Linked DNA regions of Homo sapiens: region 2 is linked to region 1. The links come from fine-mapping of genetic effects on gene expression. A gene starts in region 1. The other region holds a variant in brackets. All regions are shown on one strand. Distances are from middle to middle.

Evidence for each region.
Region 2: its variant is fine-mapped to the expression of NMI in tibial artery (GTEx, PIP 0.99).

What each region holds. Positions count from the first base shown.
Region 1 is chr2:151,286,942-151,291,339 of GRCh38, forward strand. It overlaps NMI (N-myc and STAT interactor), which reads right to left and starts at 2,727. Exons shown (of 8, transcript NM_004688.3): 1 at 2,652-2,727. RefSeq lists enhancers at 1,276-1,445, 2,246-2,295, 2,316-2,365, 2,756-2,835, 2,896-3,315 and a silencer at 2,496-2,695.
Region 2 is chr2:151,311,390-151,315,787 of GRCh38, forward strand. No RefSeq gene overlaps it. Among named protein-coding and RNA genes, the nearest start is that of NMI, 24 kb to the left of the region's middle. The variant C/T (reference allele first, on the strand shown) is at 1,855.

The sequences.
Region 1 (4,398 bases):
TTAATCTGCCTTTGCCCTTCAGAGAGCAAAGAGGAAGTTTTCCCTTGACCCCTACACTATCCAAGACACTATCAGGACAACTGGTGAAATTCACATTGGATCTGATTATTAAATTGTAGTAACGTAGCACTCCACATTCCTGATTTTGATGACTGTATTGTGGTTATGTCGGAGCACATCTTTTTTGTAGGAAATATATACTCAAGTATATAATGAAAGATGATAGGTCACCAGATTGGAAATTTATTCTTAAATAATTTAGGAAAAGGAAAAGTTGTTTTACTGTACTTGCAACTTTTCTGTAAGTTTGAGATGCCTTGAGACGATATATATATATAAGTATATATATATTTAAACCACATCTCTCTCTCTCTCTCTCACACACATACACACACACACACACACACGCATACATATATACATATATATCGCTATTGTATCAACAACTGCAAAATCTTCTTAATGGTCAGCCATGGTCTGATACATTCTAACTCCAACTCACTTTCCCGTCCTATTTAGTCAATTCCTCAACCCAGTTCCCTAACCACACTGAACACTTGGATAGTTCCTTTTCTTTCCTCTGTCCCTCAAACTGTCACATCCTTCCTCCTCTCCCAAACTTAATCTCCATCTAATGAAATCTTACTGTTCTTCAAGGTCCATTCCAAATTTTCCCCAAGCTCCCGAAGCCTTTTCTGATTCCCCCAAAGGATGTTACTCCCCCTCCTTTATCTCCTTTGCGGCGCTTTAATTACGTGTGTACCTATGTCATTTTCCGTGACACATCAGTAAACATGTTGAGGGCTGGGACCATGTCTACTCCTCCCTGCAGACATTCAGAGCACTTTCTCAGTATAAGCTTACACACTGAAAACACTCCATTTAGAGAATTATGTGGTATCTTGACTTAAGTATTTGTTGTACTCAGGACATCACATGTATATGAAGTCCTCTTATTACATTTCAGAAGACAGAAACTGCAATGTTATTTAATTGCTTTTTATTTTTATTATTGTGACAATGCCAATATTCCAAGAGCCTGTAATAAAGGCTCTCAGCATAAATGGTCTACTATCTAACACCACCAGAACCCTTTTGGCATCTTTTGCATCTGGATACTTTTGCTCTATGCATGAGTGGGATGTATGGTCATTCCTTTTATGCAATCATGTAGTAGGCAAAACAATGGCTCCCTCAAAGATGTCCACATCTTAATCCCAAGAATCTGTGATTATGTTAGTTTATATTGCAAAGGAGAATTAAGGCTGCAGATTGAATTAAGGTTGCTAATCAGCTTGCTTTTAAATATGGAGAGCATCCTGGATTATCTGTGGGAGCCCAGTGTAATCATGAGGCTACTTAAAAGTGAAAGCGGAAGACAGAAGAAGAGTCAAGAGTGAAATGTGACCCCGGAAGAACTTTCAGAGGCGCAATGTTGCTGGCCCTGAAGATGGAGGAAGGGCTGCTGAGCCAAATAAGGTAGGTGGCCTCCGGAAGATGGAAAGAGGATTCACCCCAAGAGCTTCCAGAAAGGAAGGCAACCCTGCCAACACTTTGATTTTAACCCAGTGAGACCTCAGTAGGACTGCTACAGAATCCTAAGATAGTAAATTGTGTATGTGAGTGTGTGTGTGTGTGTGTGTGTGCGCGCGCGCGCGCGTTCCTATGTGTTTAAGCCACTAAAGCCATGTAATTTGTTATGGCAGCGAATTAAAAAAACTGATACAAATCAACATCACCGTATTTCCGTAATACAATCATATAACTGCGGTGCCAGGCCGTGTAGAATCGAATCTTCCTATATGCATGCGTGGCAGCAAAAAGAAAGGCAATAGAACGTCTGCCTGTTGTACAGACTGGAAACACAGTATTCTCCTTCGGATGTCTCCTTCAAGAAAAACCTTGCCTATTCTGACACGCCAGCCATGACTGCACAACACTGCCCCTACCAAGAATCGTTTTCTTAAGAAATCCGTTTTCCTAAGGACTATCTCCAGAGACACTCGGAGAAAACAGCGAGGGCCGGGCGCGGTGGCTCACGCCTGTAATCCCAGCACTTTGGGAGGCCGAGGCGTGCGGATCACGAGGTCAGGAGATCGTATCCATCCTGGTTAACACGGTGAAACCCCGTCTCTACTAAAAATACAAAAAAAAAAATTAGCCAGGCGTGGTGGCGGGCGCCTGTAGTCCCAGCTACTCTACTCGGGAGGCTGAGGCTGGAGAATGGCGTGAACCCGGGAGGCGGAGCTTGCAGTGAGCCGAGATCGCGCCACTGCACTCCAGCCTGAGCGACAGAGCGAGACTCCGTCTCAAAAAAAAAAAAAAAAAAAAAAAAGAGAGAAAACAGCGAGGAAACACAAATAACTTTATGTTTCAATTTCCTCAATGAAGCAAAGCAAACAAGTGACAAGGCTCGAAGCCCTGACGGCCCAGAGACTGCACAGCGGGCCCAGGAGCAGGTGCGCCCCCTCGAAGGCGGCGTGGCCTCCGCGACTCGGCTGCGGGCAGCTCCCGGGGAGCAGGGTCTCAACTCCGGCGCTGTCCCACTTCCGTCGGCGCTGAGGGCTCCCACCTCCCTTTCCACCCCCGGCTCTCCAGCCCGGGACTGCCAGCGGCGGGAGTGGCAGCCGGGGAAGGGACTCCCCACTCACCCGCGTCCGCCCGCCGAGCGCAGCTCCCCAAGGCCCAGCGCGCCTGCCCTTCCCGGAAAACAGCAGCGCCTGAAACGCCGGAACCCCGGGAGGCACTGGGAGGGGAAGGCCCGGGTTCTCGAAACTGTCGCTGCCTCCTGCAGAAGCGCCGCGGGAGAGCTGCGGGGTCTTCCTGAGGAGGTGGCCCTCGCAGGAACAGCTGGGTTCCCCGCGAAAAGAAAAAGACAGTGAAAAAGAAAACTGCTTTAACGGCGATTTTTCTTTAGCATTTAACCAATGCTCAAATACTAAACATGGTTGTCTCCAATGATTAGTCACTAACAGAAAAAAAAACTAATTTCACTTTCGATTTTTAAAAAGGGGTGGTTTTGCGGAGGAAAGCAGAAGTATACCTGAAGTTTCCGTACACACTAATTTTAGGGAACGCTTTCTAAAACCAGTTTTTTGCATGTATTTTATAAGGTATGTTGGAAAAGTGGATAGAAACCAAATAAAGTCAAAGCAGGAATCGCTCTTCATCAGATTGTAACTCTTTTGTAATTTCTTAGTCATTGTAACACTAGTTGACAAATGTTTACAGTCAGCACAAGATCGGCGTTTCTGTGTCTTTTGTAACATCCCCCGGGGCCATGAAGTTGGGAAAGCTGTGGTGTTCCTGTTGGTTTCTGTGACCCATGTCCCTTGAAAGTTTTCTTATAATCTCTTGTTTTGTTGTGGAGCTTGTAAATAAATACTTCACTAGGTGTGAACTTTTCCTTTGAAAATTCAAACATCTGGTTTATTTCAAGAACTGCAGTGTCTCTTAATCCCACACAAAGAACCACCCCACAGCTGCCCCGGCTCATAAATACAGATGTGGGAAGAAAATGAGTCAAAATTATTTCAAGGCATAAATTATAGGTTATCATGCTACCTAGTCACATATAATAACTGATACAGTGGTCTAAAATAGTTTAACAAAAGTAAAATTTCTTTGTATCAAAAAGGTTGATGGGAACCAGTTTAAAGTGGTGACATTTCTCTTTTTTTTTTTTTTTTTTGAGATGAGTCTTGCTCTGTTGCCCAGTCTCCAACTCCTGAGCTCAAGCAGTCCTTCCACCTCCACTCCCAAGTAGCTGGGATTACAGGAATTCACGACCGCACCCAGATTTTTTGTACTTTTAATTTGGGTGCTGGGGGCAGGTATCTAACTGTTTCCCAGGCTGATCTTGAGCTCTGGCCCAAGTGATCCCACCACCTCAGCCTCCTGTAAAATGGCATTTCTAAGTAAAAAAAACGACTTCTTTGTGCTTATCAGACCAGTTAGAAAATACAAAAACTCCTTCTGCTGCAACTTGAGAAAGAATTACTTTAGTTTTACCTTGAAATTTTAGAGGGAATATGAACTCTCGAGGTTATTTAGTTGAACCTCATTTCTTCTTATTTTTATTTTTTACAAGAAGATACTAAAGGACAGGACCATGGCCAGAACAGGACTAACTTAATATATTGACTCAGATTCTGTTTAAAAGGCAAATGATACAGGTGGAGGGGAAGTCTTTTTGGACACCTACATTCTAAAGCTGAGACATGTACTAACAGTCTGAATTTAACTCAGCTTCAAATCTGGTATTCTGCAAAGTGTTAGAGATCTGAAGATGAAGAGTTGGCTCCTGGACATACTATTAATAATTGTAATTGCTAACATCTACTAAGAACTCCTGGACATTTTATAAACCTTTTTGTTTTGCCAACAACAATATTAGAT
Region 2 (4,398 bases), 24 kb after region 1:
CCTTCTTAATCAACATGGAGGCTACTCACTCCACATTACCTTATTTTCAAGGGCCTGTTTCCCTGGCCTCCAAAACTGTTGTAAGTATTGACGGCCAGACTCCTAAACCTCTTAAAACTCCCCAACTCTGGTGCCAACTTGGACAATATTCTTTTATACACTCCTTTTAGTTATCCCCACCTGCCCAGTTCCCTTATTAGGCTGAGACATTTTAACCAAATTATCTGCTTCCCTGATTATTCCTGGGCTACAGCCACACCTCAATTGCCATCTTTTGCCCCAATTCAAAGCCTCCTTCACATCCTCTCCTTATATCTCCCCACCTTAATCCACAAGTACAGGATACCTCTACTCCCTCCTTGGTGACAGATGATGCACCCCTTACCGTCCCATTAAAACCTAATCACCCTTACCCCACTCAATGCCAATATCCCATCCCACAGCACACTTTAAAAGGATTAAAGCCTGTTATCACTTGCCTATTACAGCATGGCCTTTTAAAGCCTATAAACTCTCCTTACAATTCCCCCATTTTACCTGTCCAAAAACCGGACAAGCCTTACAGATTAGTACAGGATCTGCACCTTAACAACCAAATTGTCTTGCCTATCACCCCATGGTGCCAAAGCCATATACTCTCCTATCCTCAATACCTCCCTCCACAACCCCTCCATAACCCATTATTCTGTTCTGGATCTCAAACATGCTTTCTTTAGTATTCCTTTGCACCCTTCATCCCAGCCTCTTTTTGCTTTCACTTGGACTGACCCTGACACCCATCAGGCTCAGCAAATTACCTGGGCTGTACTGCTGCAAGGCTTCACGGACAGCCCCCATTACTTCAGTCAAGCCCAAATTTCTTCCTCATCCATTACCTATCTCAACATAATTCTGCATGAAAACACACGTGCTCTCCCTGCTGATTGTGTCCGGCTAATCTCCCAAACCCCAACCCCTTCTACAAAACAACTCCTCTCCTTCCTGGGCATGGTTAGGTACTTCCGCGTTTGGATACCTAGTTTTACCATCCTGACTGAACCATTATATAAACTCACAAAAGCAAACCTAGTTGACCACACAGATCCTAAATCCTTTCCCCACTCCCCTTTCCATTCCTTAAAAAACAGCCCTAAAAGTTGCTCCCACACTGGCTCTCCCTAACTCATCACTCCGTTTTCATTACACACAGCTGAAGTGCAGGGCTGTGCGGTCGGAGTTCTTACACAAGAGCCAGGACCGCTCCCTGTAGGCTTTCTGTCCAAACAACTTGACCTTACTGTTTTAGCCTAGCCCTCATGTCTGCGTGTGGCAGCTGCCACTGCCTTAATACTTTTGGAGGCCCTCCAAATCACAAACCGTGCTCAACTCACTCTCTACAGCTCTCATAACTTTCAAAATCTATTTTCTTCCTCACACCTGACACATATACTTTCTGCTCCCCAATTCCTTCAGCTATACTCACTCTTTGTTGAGTCTCCCACAATTACCATTGTTCCTGGCCTGGACTTCAATCTGGCCTTCCACATTATTCTGGATACCACACCTGACCCCCATGACTGTATCTCTCTGATCCACCTGACATTCACTCCATTTCTCCTTATTTCCTTCTTTCGTGTTCGTTACCCTGATCACACTTGGCTTATTGATGGCAGTTCCATCAAGCCTAATCACCACTCACCAGCAAAGGCAGGCTATGCTATAGTATCTTCCACATCTATCATTGAGGCTACTGCTCTGCCCCCCTCCACTACCTCTCAGCAAGTCAAACTCATTGCCTTAATTCGGGTCCTCACTCTTGTAAAGGGACTACTCATCAATATTTATGCTGACCCCATATCCTGCACCACCATGCTG[C/T]TTTATGAGCTGAAAGTTTTCCTCACTACACAAGGGTCCTCCATCATTAATGCCTCTTTAATAAAAACTCTTCTCAAGGCTGCTTTACTTCCAAAGACAGCTAGAATTATTCACTGCAAAGGCCATCAAAAGGCATCAGATCCCATCACTCAGGACAATGCTTATGCTCATAAGGTAGCTAAAAAAGCAGCTAGCGTTCCAACTTCTATCCCTCACGGCAGTTTTTCTCCTCATCTAGTCACTCCCACCTACTCCCCAACTGAAACTTCCACCTATCAATCTCTTCCCACACAAAGCAAATGGTTCTTGTACCAAGGAAAATATCTCCTTCCAGCCTCACAGGCCCATTCTATTCTGTCATTTCATAACCTCTTCCATGTAGGTTACAAGCCGCTGGTCCGCCTCTTAGAACCTCTCATTTCCTTTCCATCGTGGAAATCTATCCTCAAGGAAATCACTTCTCAGTGTTCCATCTGCTATTCTACTACTCAGGGATTGTTCAGGCCCCCTCTCTTCCCTACACATCAAGCTTGGGGATTTGCCCCCACCCAGGACTGGCAAATTGACTTTACTCAACATGCCTCGAGTCAGGAAATTAAAATACCTCTTGGTATGGGTAGACACTTTCACTGGGTGGGTAGAGGCCTTTCTCACAGGGTCTGAGAAGGCCACCATGGTCATTTCCTCCCTTCTGTCAGACATAATTCCTCGGTTTGGCCTTCCCACCTCAGTTTCTGAGGCTCTTGGTATTTAGTGGCTCCTGGTTTTACCTCAAATCGCCACCCTTAAGTCTATCTAGAAGTGGATAGAAGATCTTCAGTGATAAAGTACCCTCCAATACTTTCACCCTGATGAAGTCCTATTCTTTACTTTTATACTTACTCTTATTCTCGTTCCCATTCTTATGCCACCCTCTACCTCTCCCCAGCTATCTCCACCACACTATCAATCTCAGTCACTCTCTCCTAGCCCTTTCTAATCCTTCTTTAACAAACAATTGCTGGCTTTGCATTTCTCTTTCCTCCAAATTCGAGGAGGCCCTAACTTACTCACTGCTAAAAAAAAAAAAAAAAAAAAAAAAAGGTAGGGGGGACTCTGTATATTTTTAAATGAAGAAGGTTGTTTTTACCTAAATCAATCTGGCCTGGTCTATGACAACATAAAAAAACTCAAGGATAGAGCCCAAAAACATGCCAACCAAGCAAATAATTATGCCGAACCCCCTTTGACACTCTGTAATTGGTTGTCCTGGGTACTCCCAATTCTTAGTCCTTTCATACCTGTTTTTCTCCTTCTTTTATTCGGACCTTGTGTCTTCCAAATAAGAGAATAACAATGCTCCTTCTAACAACCCCACAATATCACTCCTTACCCCAAAATCCTTCTTCAGTTGAATATCTCCCCCTGTAAGTTCCCACGCCACCCCAATCCCGCTCGAAGCAGCCCTGAGAAACATCACCCATTATCTCTCCATACCACCCCCAAAAATTTTCACCGCCCTAACACTTTACCACTATTTTGTTTTATTTTTCTTATTAATATAAGAAGACAGGAATGTCAGGCCTCTGAGCCCAAGCTAAGCCATCATATCCCCAGTAACCTGCATATATACATCCAGATGTCCTGAAGCAACTGAAGTTCCACAGAAGTGAAAATAGCTTAACTGATGACATTCCACCATTGTGATTTGTTTCTGCCCCACCCTAACTGATCAATGTTCTTTATAATCTCCCCCACTCTTAAGAAATTTCTTTGTAATTCTCCCCACCCTTGAGAATGTACTTTGTGAGATCCACCCCCTGCTCCCAAAACATTGCTCTTAACTCCACCGCCTATCCCAAAACCTATAAGAACTAATGATAATCCCACCACCCTTGCTGACTCTCCTTCGGACTCAGCCCACCTGCACCCCGGTGAAATAAACAGCCTTGTTGCTCACACAAAGCCTGTTTGGTGGTCTCTTCACACAGACTTGCGTGAGACAACCCTCACAGGGGAACCTGAAGGTCTAGATCACAGGAGGAGATTCTGACATTAACTGCAGCTGAGTCAATTTAGAGAGCTGAGTGAAATACAGGGGTAGAGGAAGCAGCGGGATAAGCCCTGTGGGCTCTCTGGGTCTCCGGGGAAGCCATTTCTGCCTTGCCTCACAGGAGTCCTTGGGGAGGGCTGCCAGAGGAACTGGGAAAAGACCACAGGGAAAAGGAAACCTCCAGCTGAACTGTGTAACAATTCCAACAGAATGCAAAATCTCCTGGCCAGAACTCCGGGGAGGGAGTGATTCTGGTGTGCAGACTCCAAAAGCAGGCAGACACGAAAGCCCTGCTTGCTTTTGCAGCTGGGAGACTGGTAGCCTGCAGCAAGTTCTCAGCCCTGCTCGCCCACTGCTGGAAACAGACTTGGTGCTGTTGGGAGTCGGGGGAAAGGTGGGAGTGAGACCAGCCTTTTGGGTTGCATGGGAGCTGGGTGAGGCCTGTGACTGCCAGCTTTCTCCCACTTCCCTGACAACCGGCATGACACAGCAGAGGCAGACATAATCCTCCT